Homo sapiens: one gene and its partners. The protein of the gene in region 3 interacts with the protein of the main gene of each other region in a pairwise test. Each region holds a gene or a part of one and is shown on either strand. Other genes may lie near its edges.

Evidence for each region.
Region 1: the proteins of JMJD4 (region 3) and H4C11 interact in binary tests that used the Homo sapiens proteins (3 or more experiments, as listed by UniProt).
Region 2: the proteins of JMJD4 (region 3) and H4C8 interact in binary tests that used the Homo sapiens proteins (3 or more experiments, as listed by UniProt).

What each region holds. Positions count from the first base shown.
Region 1 is NC_000006.12:27,821,792-27,825,089, forward strand, and holds H4C11 (histone H4), read left to right. Parts: upstream 1-2,300; 5' UTR 2,301-2,333; coding exon 2,334-2,645; 3' UTR 2,646-2,689; downstream 2,690-3,298. UniProt on the Homo sapiens protein: Core component of nucleosome. Nucleosomes wrap and compact DNA into chromatin, limiting DNA accessibility to the cellular machineries which require DNA as a template.
Region 2 is NC_000006.12:26,284,488-26,287,443, forward strand, and holds H4C8 (histone H4), read right to left. Parts: upstream 1,048-2,956; 5' UTR 1,013-1,047; coding exon 701-1,012; 3' UTR 639-700; downstream 1-638. UniProt on the Homo sapiens protein: Core component of nucleosome. Nucleosomes wrap and compact DNA into chromatin, limiting DNA accessibility to the cellular machineries which require DNA as a template.
Region 3 is NC_000001.11:227,733,360-227,737,112, forward strand, and holds the start of JMJD4 (2-oxoglutarate and iron-dependent oxygenase JMJD4), read right to left. Parts: upstream 1,944-3,753; 5' UTR 1,915-1,943; coding exon 1,653-1,914; exon of another isoform or gene 1,458-1,652; coding exon 1,292-1,457; exon of another isoform or gene 674-1,291; coding exon 548-673; exon of another isoform or gene 323-547; coding exon 55-322; exon of another isoform or gene 1-54. Other genes in the region: SNAP47 (synaptosomal-associated protein 47), read left to right, coding at 2,051-2,140. UniProt on the Homo sapiens protein: Catalyzes the 2-oxoglutarate and iron-dependent C4-lysyl hydroxylation of ETF1 at 'Lys-63' thereby promoting the translational termination efficiency of ETF1.

The DNA of each region.
Region 1 (3,298 bases), on a different chromosome or scaffold from region 3:
CGCATAGGGCAAGGCTTGGAAGGGTCCTGAAAGCAAAGCTTCTGTGCCATCTCTATGTGGAACCAGGAGTCACCTCCCTAGGATATCTATGTGTTCACAAACCAATAAACTCCCTGACCTTGGTATCCAGAGCTTTTATGAGGGTTTTATTATATAGGCAGGATTGATTGAATCATTGACCATATGATTGAACTTGTTGGGGCACAGGGAAAGCTTCCCCTATGTACTCTGAAGCTTCACTGAAAATCACTGTCAAGAGGCAGATTAATAGAAGAAAAGGCATACACATTTATTTAACATGTACGCAGAAGCCTTCAGAATGAAGACCTAAAGATACAGGGGAAATTGTCCATTTTTATGCTTAGGTTCAACAAAGTATGGACAGCTATGTAGAAATATGACTGGACATAATGTGTATGATCTAATGCTAAGAGACTGAGTGGGGAAACCCAGCCAGGCCTGTCTAGATTCTTCTTGGGCGCTCTGTGTAGTATTTCTTTTGTATATGGGGCAGGGCCCTCTCTGGAACGGAGGTCCTACGACTTACAGTCAAACAAGGTAAGTCAAATAATTTCTTTGTGGCCAGTTTTTACACGAAAAAATAAAATTTTTAGGTTTCTTATTGTTTTTTTCTTTTCTTTTCTTTTCTTTTTTTTTGAGATGGAGTCTCACTCAGTTGTCTAGCCTGGAGTGCTGTGGTGTGATTTCGGCTCAATGTAAGCGCCGCTTCCCAGGTTCAAGAGATTCTCCTGCCTCACCCTCCTGAGTAGCTAATATTACAGGTATGTGACACCACGCCCAGTTAATTTTTGTATTTTTAGTAAAGACGGGGTTTCACCATGTTGGCCAGGTTGGTCTCGAAGTCCTGACTTTAAGTGACCTGCCTGCCTCAGCCTCCCTAAGTGCTGGGATTACAGGCATGAGCCAGCGCGCCCGGCCTAAACAAGCTTATATTAAAGATGACAATTTATTACTTATAAACAAATCAATAAATCTTGCTGGGTAACTAGTTCATTAACTCAAGACTCAATCAACAAAACTAAAAGTAAATTCTGAATGTAACATAGAATTTAAAAACCATAATACTCAATGCTGGTAAACATACACAGCAGTTACTGCTGGCAAAAGTGAATGGAATAAAACTTTTGAGGAAAATGTAGTAACAGTTATCAAAATACCTTAAAATCTGCATCCTTTGTGACAAAGCGCTTCAATTCTACATTTTCCTCAGGAAGTAAATTTTGTACAGTTCTCCTTTAAATTAGGAAAAGAAAATTAGCACATTATTGCTAAGTACTAGAAATACTGTGAAAGTGGACCTAGAAAATTCTTATGATGGAATATTAAGCAGATATAAATTACTGCTTTTAAAATTTTTCCTAATGTGAATTTTCTAAGCTTTTAACCGTGAACATAGATTCCCTTTGGCAAACCACCTTGATTAAATTATAGACAGAATAGAATTTTGGTAATAGTTCCGAGTATGTATAATGTTAAAGGTGGTACTTAATCCGCAGGGAAAAGATGAATTATTTAAAAAATCTGGTTGATTAATAAATTCCTAGGGAATTGGTTAACACTGTAGCAGGCAGAATTCAGGAGAAGAAATAATAAAGACATTAAAATCACTTTTGTAAACTTTTTAAATAAGGGAAATTGATTAAAACAACGCGAAGTTGTAAAATGCCATATACTGCATACATTTTGTGGGAAAAAATGTGCATTTATCTGCTCACCAAATTATCTTATTAGCTAGCAGTAGAGCTCTTTGTGTGATGGGAAGATGGGATAACAGGCTGTTGTTACTGTACTGGTTTTTTTTTTTAATATATTTAAAAAAAAGAGTGTCTCCTAAAGTGTAAGCGCTATCATGCTGGACTAATGTTTTAATTTAATTTAATTGTTGTCTTGGTAGAGATGGGGTCTCGCTATTTTGCTCACGCAGATCTCAAACTCCTGACGCCCAGGTACACTCCCATCTCGGCCTCCTAAAATGGTGGGATCACAGACGTCAGCCACCGAGCCCGGTCACTTTTTTGTATTCCCCACAGTATTGATGTATATCTTCTGCGTTCAAAAGCAATTTTTTAAAGCCTCATAACGTGGTAACAGAATACTTTGCACATTACAAAATTCAGAACACGGAAACAAGAAGCTCGCTTTTTTTTCCCCCCTATTTCGGTTTGGCCCTTTAGATTTCCCCTCCCCCACCGGGGCGGGACTTCCCGCCGACTTCTTTCAGGTTCTCAGTTCGGTCCGCCAACTGTCGTATAAAGGCGCTGCCTCAGGCCAGAGGCCTCACAAAGCGTTGGGTGAGACTCCTCTTGCTCGTCATGTCTGGCCGCGGCAAAGGCGGGAAGGGTCTTGGCAAAGGCGGCGCTAAGCGCCACCGTAAAGTACTGCGCGACAATATCCAGGGCATCACCAAGCCGGCCATCCGGCGCCTTGCTCGCCGCGGCGGCGTGAAGCGCATCTCCGGCCTCATCTACGAGGAGACTCGCGGGGTGCTGAAGGTGTTCCTGGAGAACGTGATCCGGGACGCCGTGACCTATACAGAGCACGCCAAGCGCAAGACGGTCACCGCCATGGATGTGGTCTACGCGCTCAAGCGCCAGGGCCGCACCCTCTACGGTTTCGGTGGTTGAGCGTCCCTTTCTATCAATAAAAGGCCCTTTTCAGGGCCACCCTACTTTCTCAGCTGAAGAGTGGTAACACTGAGGAGTGGTTTTGGTAGGTACGGAATTTTGCTTGGTTCTGAGTCAGTTCTGGGGGGAACAGTTTTTTGAACACAGCGGCACACGTGTGGCCATTCACCCGGGGTCACTGTAGGCAGGACTAATTACGAGATGTAATGTCTAAACTTGCTCAAAATTCGTAAGCTTGTTTACGTAATGGAGAAAATACTCGTACACAGAATGTGCAGTACCAGAAACGTTTATGTAACCCCCGTAGTGAGCTTGACAGTGGTAATCGGAAATCGTTTTTGAAAAGCCTCCAAATCCACAAGTATTTGTGGGTTTTTTTTGTTTCGTCTTTGTCTGCGAGTTGGAGTGCAGCGGCGCGATCTCGGCTCACTGCAACTTCCGCCTCCTGGGTTCAAGCGATTCTCCTGCCTCAGCCTGCCGAGTAGCTGGGATTACAGTTTTGCGCCACTACACCCAGCTAATTTTTGTATTAGTAGAGATGGGGTTTCACTATGTTGGCCAGGATGGTCTCGATCTCCTGACCTCGCGATCCGCCCGCCTTGGCCTCTCAAAGTGCGACCTCTTAAAGAATTTTAAGATAATTTTTTACTTTC
Region 2 (2,956 bases), on a different chromosome or scaffold from region 3:
CCTTTTAATATTTTCGTAATATTCAAAAACACATTTTAAGTCTATTGGAAACAATACTTGCAAGCTCTCAAGTGAACATTTATATTGTTACCCCACACTGCCTTTTGTAGACGAGTTTTGTCACCAAGTCAAAAGCAGCAGCGCGCACGCCGCCTGGACTTGGGTCTGCGATCCTACTCACGCAGATGTGTTGCGCTCACGGATTCGCCTTGGTTTAAGGCCCGCCGTCTGGGTGCGAGCTTTCTTTGTTTTTAGCCCTTCCCGCCATTTTGGAAAGGGTAACTTGCAGTCTCTCCGCGAAGTTTCCAACTTCTGTAGTCTTTGAGAACCTTACGAACGCTTCAAGCTTAAACTGAAGGAGGAAGGCCCACGGGAATTATAAACTGTCACAATCCAGCTTACTCACTGATATCTAGTGTTAAAATGCCACAAGAAAGCTAAACATATTCAACATACCAACTTCCCTCAAGCAGAAAACAGTGGCTTTAAGTACTTTATGCCCAAATCCTAAACATGCGAGATTAAGCACGAGTAATTAAACGTTACCTGCAAATCTACACATGTGCACAGTAACTACTTCTCAGCAAAAATCTGGAACAAAGCAGGATAACAAGATGTCTGCTCTTTTATGAAAAAAGTGGGCGGCCCTGAAAAGGGCCTTTGGTTGAAAATGAAAATAAGAGTGCAGCAAGCAGGAGCCTTAGCCACCGAAGCCGTAAAGAGTGCGTCCCTGTCGCTTCAGCGCGTAGACCACATCCATTGCTGTCACGGTCTTGCGTTTGGCGTGCTCTGTGTAAGTGACAGCGTCACGAATCACGTTCTCCAGGAACACCTTCAGAACACCACGAGTCTCCTCATAGATAAGGCCAGAAATTCGCTTGACACCGCCGCGACGAGCAAGGCGCCGGATAGCTGGCTTAGTGATGCCCTGGATGTTATCGCGCAAAACCTTGCGATGACGCTTAGCTCCTCCCTTACCCAAACCTTTTCCACCTTTACCACGGCCAGACATGACTAAGCAACTTCTAAAACCAACTTAAGAAACCTAAACGCCAAGGCAAAGCAACGCCCTTATATGCCGGGAATTCGGACCTAATTGAAGACTGAAAGCGCGCATACCGGAACTTTGGTCCTGCTTCTTGGCCCCACCCCGCATAGCCCAGCCCTGGATGACGTCACCAACGACTCCAGCCTTTGGCATCTGAGCGCCGGCTCCGCGGAGGCGTCTCTTGCAATTGCTGGGAAATAGGAATGAGAGTTTTAAGGCTGTTTTAACAACCAAATCAGATTAAATAAATTAACATGTTTAAATTGTTATCAATTGTTCCTTCAGTTGCTTTAGGACGATTGGAGAGGAGCCTCGGTCCACAAGACCGGAAGCCTGAGGAGTGCAGCTTTGTCCCCAAGGTCACAGTGACTGGCTTTCTGCTGCCGGCTGTAAAGCACATGCGGACCGAAACCCCCCTTCGGAAGTGTTTGAAAACTGCAAGATTTCACCCTCTCCATCACCAAGCCAAGGGAAACATAACCAAAAGGGTTTTCTTCCCGATGGCGAAGGCATGATAGGTTAGTGATTCGTGGTAGAATTATTGCCCTCCGCGCGGAGGCCTGATTCTATTCCCAGTTTGTTCTCTTCTTTCCCTGCTTATTAAAATTTGTAATTGCCATTTAAATATCTAACTGCCCCTCACAACTGCACCCAGTGTGTAGGTTTCGGGGTGGGGGTTTTTTTTTTTCCTTTTTTTAATTTTATTGAGACAGGGTCTCGCTATGTTGCCTGCCTGGGTCTTCCAAAGTGCAGTGACTACAGGCGTGAGCTACCGCGCCTAGCCCACCAGTGTATTGATATTTATTTTTCTATCCCTAGTTTTGTTTTCTGTTTGATTCTGGTGATTCCTTTTTCCAAAGTGAGTTGGCAACCTGTGGTAGCCAAAGAAGTAGGCAACTGCTCGTAGGTTTTTTCTTAAATTACGAGGTAGTCTGAACGCATCTCCTGTAAGTAGTTAAGAGTACTGTGAGACCGTGTGCCTGGCAGAACAGCAGAGTGGCGCAGCGGAAGCGTGCTGGGCCCATAACCCAGAGGTCGATGGATCGAAACCATCCTCTGCTAGGTCCTTTTTTTTTCTCCCCCCCCGTCTATTTTCCTGAGGATCCCTTTTTTTTAAGTTACAGTTTTTTAGGTTAAACAATGACGAAAGAAAACAAAATGAACCCGAGTATTTCTTTAATTCCAGAATTACAAGCATTTCCGGGAAATAATGTGAAACTACAATCTCTGCATGTACAATTTTGATTTTCATGGACACCCAAGTGTCATTAATCAATATGTCATCTGTAAACAAAGCAAATTTCTCTTGTTTAGAGGCTATACCACTGTTGCAGCCAGTTATGACAGTTGTAAGTTAACCTGCCAAGCAAGGAGAATGCTTACATAAACTGAGTGCCAAGGGTGGGGTGGGGTGGGAGCCCAGGAATGGAGTTTTATATCTTTTGATACATAATTCAGAAAGCACTATTTGCCAAGTAGTTAAGGCAATCGACTAGGAATTCCTAAATCCCCACACAGATTCTTTTCACCTACAAGGATCTTAATCTCGGAAAATGAGTTGCATTTTGAGGTGGGTGTGGAGTCTTCATAGCACTGATTGAACTCTGACCTGAGAAAAACATTTTTGCGGACCCTACTGGTAAATGTGTCTCTACTCTCTACCATCCTTTAATATCTCAAATAGAACTATTCGCTGTGCTTATTTTTTAAACATATGTGTGGACTGCTTTATGCTTCTCTCTCTCAGAAAGGATTCCTATTCAGATATTTATGTGTCACATACTGTATTAGGAACTAAGAAAAAAAAAAAACCTTAAGTAGTCTACAGTCTAGATATGCTTTTGTTGTTTTTGTTTTTTGTTTTTTGTTTGTTTATTTGTTTTTGAGATGAAGTCTCACTCTTGTTGC
Region 3 (3,753 bases):
GCCGTCTTCCTGCAGGAAGGCCCCTGATAGGGGGCAGGAGAAGCAGCACATTACCAGGTTGTGCACCTGGTGGTGCCAGCCACTGGGCACAAACACCATCTCGCCCGCTTCCTGCGTGATCTCCAAGGGTGGGCCAGCAAGCTGGTTCCGTGGGTGCAGGTGTGTGTCGCAGAGTGCTGGGGAGGTCACGTCGTAGGGCAGGTTGCCGTGGCGGTCCCGCAGGGCCTCTTCCTGCCCTGGGGGGAAGAGGAGCCACTTCTTCCTCCCACAGACATTGACAGACCAGCTGAAGGAGCGGAAGATGTCAGCATGGAACGGGGACCTGCGGCAGCAAGAGCGCCTGGTTCATGCCTGTAGGGGCTGGTATGGGCTTTGCTTGGCACCCCAGAGGCCTGGTCCAACTGAAGGAGGGGTGGCCCCTTGGTCTCAAGGGATGGCACCCACTGTGAGGCCTGTGCCAAGCAGCCCCCCTCCTGCCACCCTGGGCCTCCCAGTCCGTTCTGTCACCAGGCCCCTTCGGGTTCCACTCCCACATCCGTGGCCTCACCAGCTGCCCGCAGGCCCCGCGTAGACAAAGCGGTAGTCATCCACATCCAGTGCATCCCAGAACTCATTCAGCCAGTCGGACGAGAAGTACACAGGCAGGGTGAAAACGTCCTCCACCGGAAAGTCCCTGTGAGGAGGGCGCAAGGGCACCACCGACAGCACGTGAGGCACGAGGAGACTAGGGCAGCACGAGTGGGGCAACTGAGACCAATCGGCTCCAGTGGAGCTTCCAGATGGCTGCAGCCCCCAAAGAGCCCCAGACCCTCCTCTGAGCCAGACGCTGCTGGCGGGGGAGGGGGCGGGGCAGTCTGACTACAATGGTTCTGCTTATTAGAAAGTACTGATCATGCCTATAATCCCAGTGCTTTGAGATGCTGAGGTGGATGCATCACCTGAGCTCAGGAGTTCAAGACCAGCCTGGGCAACATGGTGAAACCTAGTCTCTTTAAAAAAAAAAAAAAAAAAAAAAAAAGCCGGGAGTGGAGACGCCTTCCTGTAATCCCAGGTACTAGGGAGGCTGAGGAGATCTCTCTCAAAAAAAAAGGAAAAAAAACCATATTGACCTCCCAAAGAACAACACTTGCAGCCATGCGGAAGACAATCCAGTTTCTTTTAAACTGATTAAAGTGCCTCACGGGGAAAAATAGCTCCGTTGTGCACCCAGGGGCCACCTTCATCAGAAAGGCCTCTGGGTTCACGCAGCGCTAGGGAAGGCAGCGCCTCGGTGCGTCCCAAGCCCCATTACCTGCACAAGTGCCAGTCTTTGAGGTAGAGACAGCCCCTGGGAGAGGAGTAGCCCGCCTGTATGTACTCTTTCCAGTAGGTGATGTAGTCTCTGAGAGTCATGTGCTCTTTGGGGTTCGAGTTGTATTCCTGGACCCCACAGTTTGCAACTGGTACAACCACGTCTCCTGAAATGAAAGGCACGGTCCATGCCATCTCCCTGGGCCCCGTCCTCACTCCAAACCGTCTGCAGAGGAACTCTCCAGGGGCCACGCGCCTGGCCTCCCTCACCCTCCCTGGTGCCCCTCTCTAGGCGGGGGCCTCCCGGGCCTGGGTCCCGCCGGCCTTTCCTCCCCGCCCGGGGTCTGCGGCCGCCGCCCCACCGTAGGTCCGTAGCAGGTGGTCGAAGTCGGGCCTCCCCGCGGGCGTCACCCAGCGCCGCCGGCTGCCCCAGCCCTGCGTGAAGGCGCTGGAAAACACGCAGGGCAGGTTGGGCAGCAAGAAGCCCCGCACAAAGTCGGCGTAGGAGAAGGCGCCCGGCTCCGAGACGAAGGCTACCCGGCCCGGAGCCTGGCCGACGCCGGGGACATCGACCCCCAGGCCTCGGAAGTGGCTGTCGGCGAGGGCGCGCGTCTCGCGGTCCATCCAGCTCAGCACGGGTCGAAGGACCCTCCTCCTCACTTCCGCCGGAGCGGAAACGGTGAGGACCAGCCTCGGAACCAGAAGACGCAGGGCGCCGCGTTTCTGCCCCGCCAGCGCCTGGGGCTCCGGGCCTGCACGCATGCGCGCGGCTCGCCGCGGTCTTCACTGCGCAGGCGCCGAGCGGCCGAGGCGCCGCGGTCGGCTCTGGGACTCGTCTGGCGTCCCTCAGGTGAGCGACGGTGTTGGTCTGTTGGGCGCCCGGCCCAAGCCAAGCCGTAGCGTCCGCCCTCGGCTCAGTCCGCGCGCTGTGGCTGACACAGCCCGAGCCCTCCTTCCCGCATCCCCGGGGGGTGGGGGGTATGCGGGCTGCGCTGGGAGAGGGGCGGGGACAGAGGCGGTTCTGGGGGCGGGAGTGCGGCGGTGCGGGGGCGCCCAGGGATGATGGGACCCGGAGAGAACGGTGGGACCCAGAGGGAGAGCTGGGGGGCCCTGGGATGGTGGGATCTAGCGGAGATGGTAGGGTCCTGGAGGAGATGGTGGGGACCTGGAGAGGACGGTGGCACTTGGAGGGGATGGAGACGGGATCTGGAGGGGACGGTGGGACCTGGAGGGGATGGGGACAGTGGGGACCTGGAGAGGACGGTGGGATCTGGAGGGGATGGGTACAGTGGGGACCTGGAGAGGACGGTGGGGACCTGGAGAGGACGGTGGCACTTGGAGGAGATGGGGACATTGAGGACCTGGAGGGGACAGTGGGGATTTGGAGGGGACGGTAGCACTTGGAAGGGATGGGGACAGTGGGTTCCTGGAGGGATCAGTGGCACCTGGAGGGGACATGGGATCTAGAGAGGATGGTGGGGACCTGGAGGAAAATGGTGGGAGGGCTGGAGGGGGCAGGGTAACCTAGATGGGCGAATGGGGCCCACAGGGGACCTGGAGGGCATGGCAAGGGGCCCCAGGGGATGACGGGTGTCTGGAGAAGATGGTGGGGAATGAGGGAGGGTGTGAAATGAAGGTGTGGTGGGAGTGTGGGTAGGGATTTGGGGCTGTGTACACATGAGCAGGGCTGAAGTGGGAGGACATCGGAGTAGTGACATGAGGAGTGTTTTGCCAAACTTGCAACTGGAGTTACCCCAAAAGTGGCGGCAAGGGAGTTCCCCACACTATCCTCAGGTGGGACCAGTTGGGATACCAAAGAAAGAAGTGCTAAATGCATGGTAAGCCCAGAGCAGTTTTTTTTTTTTTTTTTTTTTTTTTTTTTTTTTTTGAGACAGTATGCAGTGGCACCATCACAGCTTACTGCAGCTTCCACCTCCTGGGCTTGATGAATTCTTTAATTCTGCTTCAGCCTCCCAAGTAGCTGGGACTACAGGCATGAGCCACTATGCCCAGCTTAGTTTTGTTTTTTTGTTTTTGTTTTTTTTTTTTTTTTTTGTAGAGACAGGGTCTCTGTGTTGCCCAAGCCGGTGTTGAACGTTTGGGCTCAAGCAATCCTTCTGCCTTGGCCTCCCTAAGTGCTGGGATTACAGGTGTGAGCCACTGCGCCAGGCCCTGCCTAGAGGTTTTGTTAGGGGAACTTTCATATAGAGTGGGCTGCGGTAGTCCTCGAGACGGGCAGTAAGGGAAAAGGGATGTCCTCCCTAGGTATGTCTCTTGGAAGGGGTGTGGGTTATGGAGTTTATAGGAAGGTTTCAGGAATTTGGCTCAGGGCCAAGGCCGTTTTCTTTGTAGTAAACCTAGATACTTTCTTCCATGCCTGGAAATGTTAAAGGCCCTGGATTGGGTTGAAGCCTGGTGGGGAAAACCTGTGGTTGGGGCACAGAGGGATCAGGGTACTCTGTG